Homo sapiens: one gene and its partner. The protein of the gene in region 1 purifies or fractionates together with the protein of each later gene. This does not show direct contact. Each region holds a gene or a part of one and is shown on either strand. Other genes may lie near its edges.

The links.
Region 2: the proteins of TACC1 (region 1) and LYST purify together in Homo sapiens (affinity purification with mass spectrometry; one large-scale study listed by BioGRID and IntAct). This does not show direct contact.

The regions. Positions count from the first base shown.
Region 1 is NC_000008.11:38,793,582-38,797,405, forward strand, and holds part of TACC1 (transforming acidic coiled-coil-containing protein 1), read left to right. Parts: intron 1-3,824. UniProt on the Homo sapiens protein: Involved in transcription regulation induced by nuclear receptors, including in T3 thyroid hormone and all-trans retinoic acid pathways. Might promote the nuclear localization of the receptors.
Region 2 is NC_000001.11:235,811,191-235,815,014, reverse strand, and holds part of LYST (lysosomal-trafficking regulator), read left to right. Parts: intron 1-1,953; coding exon 1,954-2,044; intron 2,045-3,824. UniProt on the Homo sapiens protein: Adapter protein that regulates and/or fission of intracellular vesicles such as lysosomes. Might regulate trafficking of effectors involved in exocytosis.

The DNA of each region.
Region 1 (3,824 bases):
TCAGGGCCCATCAAGTTATATATATATGAAATATATATTTTGGTAGATATGGGGTCTTGCTATGTTGCCCAGGCTGATCTTGAGCTCCAGGGCTCAAGTAAGTGATCCTCCCACCTCAGCCTCCCAAAATGCTGGGATTTCAGGTTTGAACCACCACTGTCATCCCCATAAATAAAGTTATTGGAATACAGCCATACTCATTCATTCATGTATTGTCTATGGCTGCTTTTGCTCTACAATAGCTGGGTTGAGTACTTGGAACAGAGACCAAATGTCTGGCAAAAGTCTAACATATTTACTATCTTGTACAGAAAAAAAATGTCAACCTACATCTATACTTATTACAATTTCAGTAAAAATACAGAGTTTAAGTAATTTGGGAAAATGGCTTTAAGAATGAAAAGGTGCAAGGTTATACCTGCTGAACAAATGAACTGTGGGCGTGAGGTGCCATTAGTCTAGGCCTGCATGTTCAGGGAAGGCCCAGGGGAGAGCCTGATGTGGCCTGGCTATTTGTCATATTTGCAAAGGGGAAGTGATGTAATTGGTCTGCAATGAACTTGATTTTCAATTGACTCAAAGATCTAAGGAGGAATAAAAATTATTTAAAAAGGAAATTAGGGAAGAATGGGGAGAATATTGGAATCATTTAATAGAAGTACAAACACATAGACTTTTAACTTTTGCCCATTAAATTTTTTTTAACATTTTATTTTCTTAAATTTTTTTTAAAAAAATAGTGATGGGGTTTCACTGTGTTGCCCAGGCTGGTCTCGAACTCCTGGGCTCAAGTGATCCTCCCACCTTGGCCTCCCAAAGTGTTGGGGTTACAGGCATGAGCCAGCCTCACCCAACCCATTAAATGTCTTTAATGTAACTTCGGGTGTATGAGAATTTGTAAGTTGACTGTGCAGATCTCTTAAAAGGTTGATATGGTGTATTTTTAGAATGTTTTAGACTGCACGTGTGTGTGTGTTTGTTTGTGTGTGTGTGTGTGTGCGTGCTATAGAAAACACAGCATGGAAACCTTGTTAAAATCAGAGGCTTTGATTTTTTATTCTAAAGCTTTGAGTTATATGTTTAATCAGATACTATGTGAAAAATTTTCATTAGGTACATATTGAAGTGTTCCATTCAAGTCTACAAGTATATCCTCCTAAGGATTTAGTTTAACATCCTTTCCCTGCTCCAACAAGGGAATGCTTTATTAGAGTTTCCTAGAAATAATGGGACTAATTAGGACCTTTCATATTACCTAGTCCAGCAGTCCAACCCATGTGGCTCCTTCAACAGCATCGCAGCCTAATGCTTTTAATTTAATTTTAAATTTTTAATGTTTTGCTGTGATTGCCTCTTCCACAGTTTGATTTTTTTGTACTGTATAATTCCATGTTAAGGTATTTAAAGCTTGAAAATCTTAGCATGATATAGCTACTTTGTTTTTTCATGTATTTTTAGCTCTGAAGTTGGAGATTCCAACCAGCTAATAAATGAGATCAGAGTCATGTGTTTTTTTGTTGTTGTTGCTCTATCACAATGTAAATGTGCCCCTAGGAAGCACCTGCTTCTATATGGTGCCTTACCCAAGGGAGTGTCTTCCTGGGGAAAAAAGTGTAGTTTTTCCAGCAGAAACTTGTGAGAGTGCAGAACCACAGAGGAGCAACAGTGTCTGAATAAAAAATTCCAGGGCAGGGAAGCAAAGTCTACCTGCAGAAAGGAAAGATTTTAGTAACTATCAAATCACAATTTTTCTTTTAAGATGAGTGACAAAATCAAGACCTTGCACTCCCCCATTTTGGGCTTACCCAAGCATCGAATAAAGCAGTAGAACTTACTTTGGTACTTGCGGGTGGCAGAGACACTTTCTACCTGTGTATGTGTTTTGGGAGCCGGCAGTCCTTCTAAAATTATATTGCTGCCATGTAATGTCCCACCTACAAAATGGATGTGGCCTAAAGCCATTTAAACATTTAAATGAAAGAGCAGTTGCAGTGTCTTTTTCAGGTTACCAGTTATACTGCCCAGAGGAAATCTTGGAGGGTATAAACCATTTTGTCACACTCTCCTAAATCCAGAGTAGCGATGGGAGATAATGGTTTATCCACCCAAAACAACCCTCTCAGTGGAGATTTCATAACCAAGGTTGCTAAATTGCCTGGTGACTATTAAATCTGGGCTTAGAAAGGCTTTGCTACTTGTGAGTTCAAGATCTCACCCTCACCTTTGCATGTACATGACCTAATTTTATGAGTTCAAACAAACATGATTAGATCCCCAGGGTTTAGATTGATGATGGCCAGACTCACAAGGGAATAATAATAATGGCATGGAGTATTTTATTAATTCACAAATGAAAAATGTATCTTGACAGTTTGGCAGATGCAGATACTCTCCTAGCCAGTCGAGGACCCTCTTTCTTATATCATAGCTGGAAATATGACAATAAATGATTGATCTCCAGCTTTCCCATTACAATATTCCCACCTAGCAGATCACCAGCTATCTGTTTCAGCCGTATTTATTTATTAGATGTGTTGGGAACAAGTAATCTTTGTTTGCAGCATCTTGTTTGATTTTTATGACCATGATTCTGCGAGATAGGACACAAGTGATTTCCATTTCACAGATTGGGAAATTGAGGCCAGAGCCTTTACTGCTAGTAGTGGACCTGGGTTTTGAATTCAGCTTTTAAGATTGCAGATCCAGAGCTCTTTGGAACATATTATACAGCTTTTCTCTCCAGGAAATTTGTGAATCCCTCTCTGTTGTTCACTATCTGAAGAGAAGACATATCAGAGGAAATAAAGGGTCTTAAAATGTTGCCAGAGCAGGGTGTGTGATGGGGGAAAGCATCGTCTTAAGTATCCTGTCATGTGATAGTAGTTTAAAAAATCAAAAAATACATCTTCCACATGTGTGAACTTGGCACATATTATTCTGAAGTATGAAATGTATTTTAGGAAGTTGAAACATCAGAAGTTTGGAAGCTTGCAGCATGATTTAGATATAAATTAATAGTCAAGCAAAAATCATCACTGGATAAGTGCAGTGGGATTGAAAACATTTTGCTTCCTCAATGCCTAGCTTCAGCTCATCAGTGAAAAATAAAGAAGGAGTAGACAAATTCAGTACTAGCCTTTGCATTCTGTCTCCACCTGAGTCATGCATGGTTGAGAAGAGGCAGGTGTGTGGAGGTGTGTGCGGCTGCCAGGGGCTCTGCGCCTGTTTTATGGTAGATAGAGGAGTTTTTAAGAGGCCTTTGTTGGTGATCTCTGGCTGCATAACAAATTACTCCAAAACTGAAAACAACGAACATCTCACATAGTCTTTGTAGTTGGGAAATTTGGGAGCTGGGTGGTGTGGCTCAGGTCACTTTTGAGAATGCTGTCAAGATGTCGGCTGGGACTGCAGTTGTTTAAAGACTTGACTGAGGCTCAAGAATCCTCTCCTAAGGCGGCTTACTCATTTGCCTGGGCTGTGAGTGCTGGCTGTTGGTGGGAGGCTGCAGTCCTCACCATGTGGACCACTGCTGGGTTGCTTGAGTATCCTCACAGCATGGCAGCTGGCTGCCCCAGAGTGAGTGATCCAAGAGCAAGCAAGATAGAAACTGCAGAGTCTTCTGTGACTTAGCCTCAAAAGTCACACTTATTTCCACAGTATCCTTTTGGTTACACAGGTCAGTCCAAGGGCATGTGTACCAGGAGGTGAGACATATAGGGGCCGTCTTGGAGGCTGGCTACCACAAAGCCCTTTTCCACTTTTTAAAAAACTTGCATGAAAGGATATACAAGGGTATACATTCTTAGATGGCAAAGCTTTTCCCA
Region 2 (3,824 bases), on another chromosome or scaffold:
AGTTTGGCAGATGGGAGGATGGGGATGGAGAATTGCAGAAACAGTGTATGTGAGGAAGACCTATTGGGAGCACAGAGACCAGTAGTTTTCAGGGGAAACCTTTACCAGCTAGATGTATGCGGAGGGCTCATGTGTGGCAGAGGGAGCTGACACTGGACAGCTCAACAGGAATCATTGCCGTGAAGGGTTTTCTATACCTAAAAAGGGGTTTAGATTTTACTAAACCCCTTTTTTGAAGAATTCTGAGCCTTTTCACAACCAGGACACCAGAAGGAGTAGTCTGAATGTCCTGTCTTTACTTTCTCACTTCCTTTGACTCCTCAGCCTATTGTAATTGGAGTTGCAGTCAAATCACTCCATTAAAGCCGTTAGTTAAGGGGCATTCCAGTTACTAAATGCTTTTCGGCCATCATGTCACACAGTGAAAGGGCAACAGCTTTGGCCCTGCTGACTCCTTTCTTTCCTGAACTGGTCTCTTCCTTGGTTTCTCTGGTTGTACTTCTCTTTCTTGGGGCTATTTTTCAATAGAAGCCTTTTCAGCCTTTTCTTTAGCATTGCCCATCTTTAAGTCTTTAAAGTCCGGAGTTTCATTCTTGATGGTCTTCTATTGTCATTCTATATTCTCACCCTGGGAAAATTCACATATCTTCTTGCCTTCCACCCCAATTACTCCTAAATCTTGTTATTTACTTCATATTTTTTTAAGTTCCAGATCTATATATTTACTGTCTACTAAAAAGCTGTCTTCATTAGGATAGTGCATAGACGTCTCAGACTCCATATGTCTGAAAAGTGAATCCATCATCTTTATCCCAACCTAATACCACTTGTAAATTTCCTGTCTTGGTGAATACATTATCAGCTACCTAGATGCTGAAACCAGTAACCTGTGGGTCCTTTTAGATCTTTTCTTTTCTCCCTTATGTGCCATAGATAATCAACTGCAAGTTATTTTAGTTCTACCTTACAGTTTCTCAAATATGTCTCCTTTTCCCTTCTGTTGTTGGAGTACTTCAGAAAGTCATCATCTCTCTCATCTGGATTATTGTTACCCTGCCTCTAACACTGCTTCCCCTTCCAACTAATTCTGTTCAGCAAATCTGATTGTGTCATCATGCGACCCCCTCTCCCACTGATTGGTGTAAGGCGAGAACTCAAACTTGATTTGTCGTTAAATCCTTTACTACCCATGTCCCAGGTGTCCCAGGTCTAGCTCTCTAGCTCCCATTCTCCTTCCATACTTCTGATAATGACTGCTCCTTTTTCTGAACTCCTAAACTGAATGCTTCTACCACCCCTGGATACTTACTCATACTACATGCCTTCTGCTGTTCTTTAACTGTTTATGTGTATGTATTTTATGGACCAAATGAGGGGACCTTCTCCAGGGCTTGGACCATATCCTCCAGAAAGGGTAAGACAGTATTTTTGTGGACATAGTATGCAGTCAATAAATATTTATTGGATTACATTCACTAATAAGTCTTTCTCTCCTTATATATTATTTATTAATAATGTCAATTTCTCTTTTAAAATCGTCTCTGAGTTTTTCATTTAACTGCATGAAGGCTTCACATTTTTCTAGTAACTTTGTAGCATTGCTTTGCTAATTAATAGGGCTTAACTTTTCATTTTCACCTAGCAAATCTGTTTCTTCATAGGTAAGGAATTCTTGCAATGTGCATGGTGGTAATAACAGCTATTTTTGGAAATATCAGCAGGAGTGTGCTAAATACTGTCAAATACTCTTAGATTCTTCTATCATTAGAAAGGCTTATAAACTTAAAAGTATCACAGCTTTAACTGGATTGAAGATAGGTTAATTTGATTCTTAGCTTTTCAAATGCAGACTTTCAAGAAAAAGGATTTTTTGGTTCAGTTTAAGACAAGACATTAGGAACTGATGTGTCTTATCGCCTTAGAACATGAAGGATTCTTTTGTTACTGACATAGGCATTGACATGTAGAGAAGAACTCCTGACTCTTCTTCTGTCTCTCCTTCCACTGGTATGGAAGATACCTGTCCAAGAAGAAAAGGCAACAGGTATGCTTTTTCCCTTTATCATATCACTTGTGTTATCAAAATTTCATAGAAAAGTTACTTCTGCCTGAATGTTTGATTCTGATTCAGATTCAGAACACTATATGTTATTGTGATTTATTCATACTAAATATGAAAAATTATTTAGGCAAACACATTTTTCCTTCAATAATACAAAAACCATGGTGCTTCTTGGGGGAAGTACTTGAATGTACTGATGATTAGAAAATGTATAAAGAAGCAGAAACACTTATCAGAAGGAGTGAGTCTAGGTGTGCAGCATAACATCAGAAAAATGGATAGTGAAAAGTTGGAAGTGAAAAGTCTGAATAAAGAAATTAAAGTTTCTTTGCTTATTTTAAAGACTGCTTTCTATTACCAGTATTCTATAAGTGACTTTTGCAGTATTTGTTTTAGCTTAGTTTTTCTAGTGTTGCCTTTAAAGTATAATTTTTTTTTTTTTTTTTTAGGCAGAGTCTCACTCTGTCACCCAGGTTGGAGGGCAGTGGAGTGATCTCGGCTCACTGCAACCTCAGCCTCCCGAGTTCAAGCAATTCTTGTGCCTCAGCCTCCTGAGTAGATGGGATTACAGTCGTGCACCACCATGCCAGACTAATTTTTGCATTTTAGTACATACAGATGGGATTTCACCATGTTGGCCAGGCTGGTCTCAAACTCCTGACCTCAAGTAATCTGCCCACCACAGCCTCCCAAAGTGCTGGGATTACAGGCATGAGCCACCGTGCCCAGCCTAAAGGATATATTTAATATTTTGTTTCAAGCTTGGGTAGAATTATTCTATGTAAGGTCGATAGATATTTTTAATTTATGATTTTGAAGAAATCATATGTCTATAAAGTACATGAAACTTTAAATGTTTCATTGGAGAGATTAATAGTTTTCCTCTTGACCCTTTCTTGTGACATGTTTGTGAGATGTTTGAAGATCTCTCAGGTTAAAAAAAAAATTATTGTATTTTAATTCCTGTATTTTTAGTGAATTTCATGGAGCTTTTTTTAAGGAGGTATCTAAGGTTTTGTAATACTGTTTTTCTGCTTATTTATTGATTCACTAACTCTCTGCTTTTATTTTTTTCTGAGTTTGCAGAATTCACAAATTGTTAATCACTTAAGAAATCTGATTAATGCTCTTTGGGGGAAGTTGTCTTCATTGTCTGCATCTTTTGCTTGGGTGGAATTTGTCAGACTCCTTTTAATTTCTCCTCTTCCCATCTGGTTTGCTTTCCCTGTCTTAGTAAAGCACAGATTTTTTTATTTACAGATTTTAATTTATTCACTCTAAATTACAGCTACTTTTTTATATAGCTCTTACTACATACTGCAAAGAGAAAGACTGATCTAATTATCTTTTTAGTTAAAGGGAGAATTCATTCATTTCCCCTGTGAAGTATTTACTGAGTGTTGACCATACGCCAGGCCCTATCTAGGCACCGGGGATGAAATAATAGTGTCTATACCTGGTGCCTAGTTCAGTGCTGAAACATTTGAGAAATAATTTGAATAAAGAATTATTTAAACCTCAGTTTTAGAGAACATTTGGCATATAGTGTATGATTTTGAAATAATTTTAGAAAAATCTTAAAGTAGTTAAATTATATCAGGTCTATGAATACTATTTTTGAGAATATAATACATCCTTACATTTTAATTAGTGGTACTATGGGAAGAGATTTGTAAATGGTGTGAACAACAGCACTAAATACCAGATAATCTACAGCATCTCTTATGTTGAAGTTAGAATATAATATATAGTTTTAAATCAG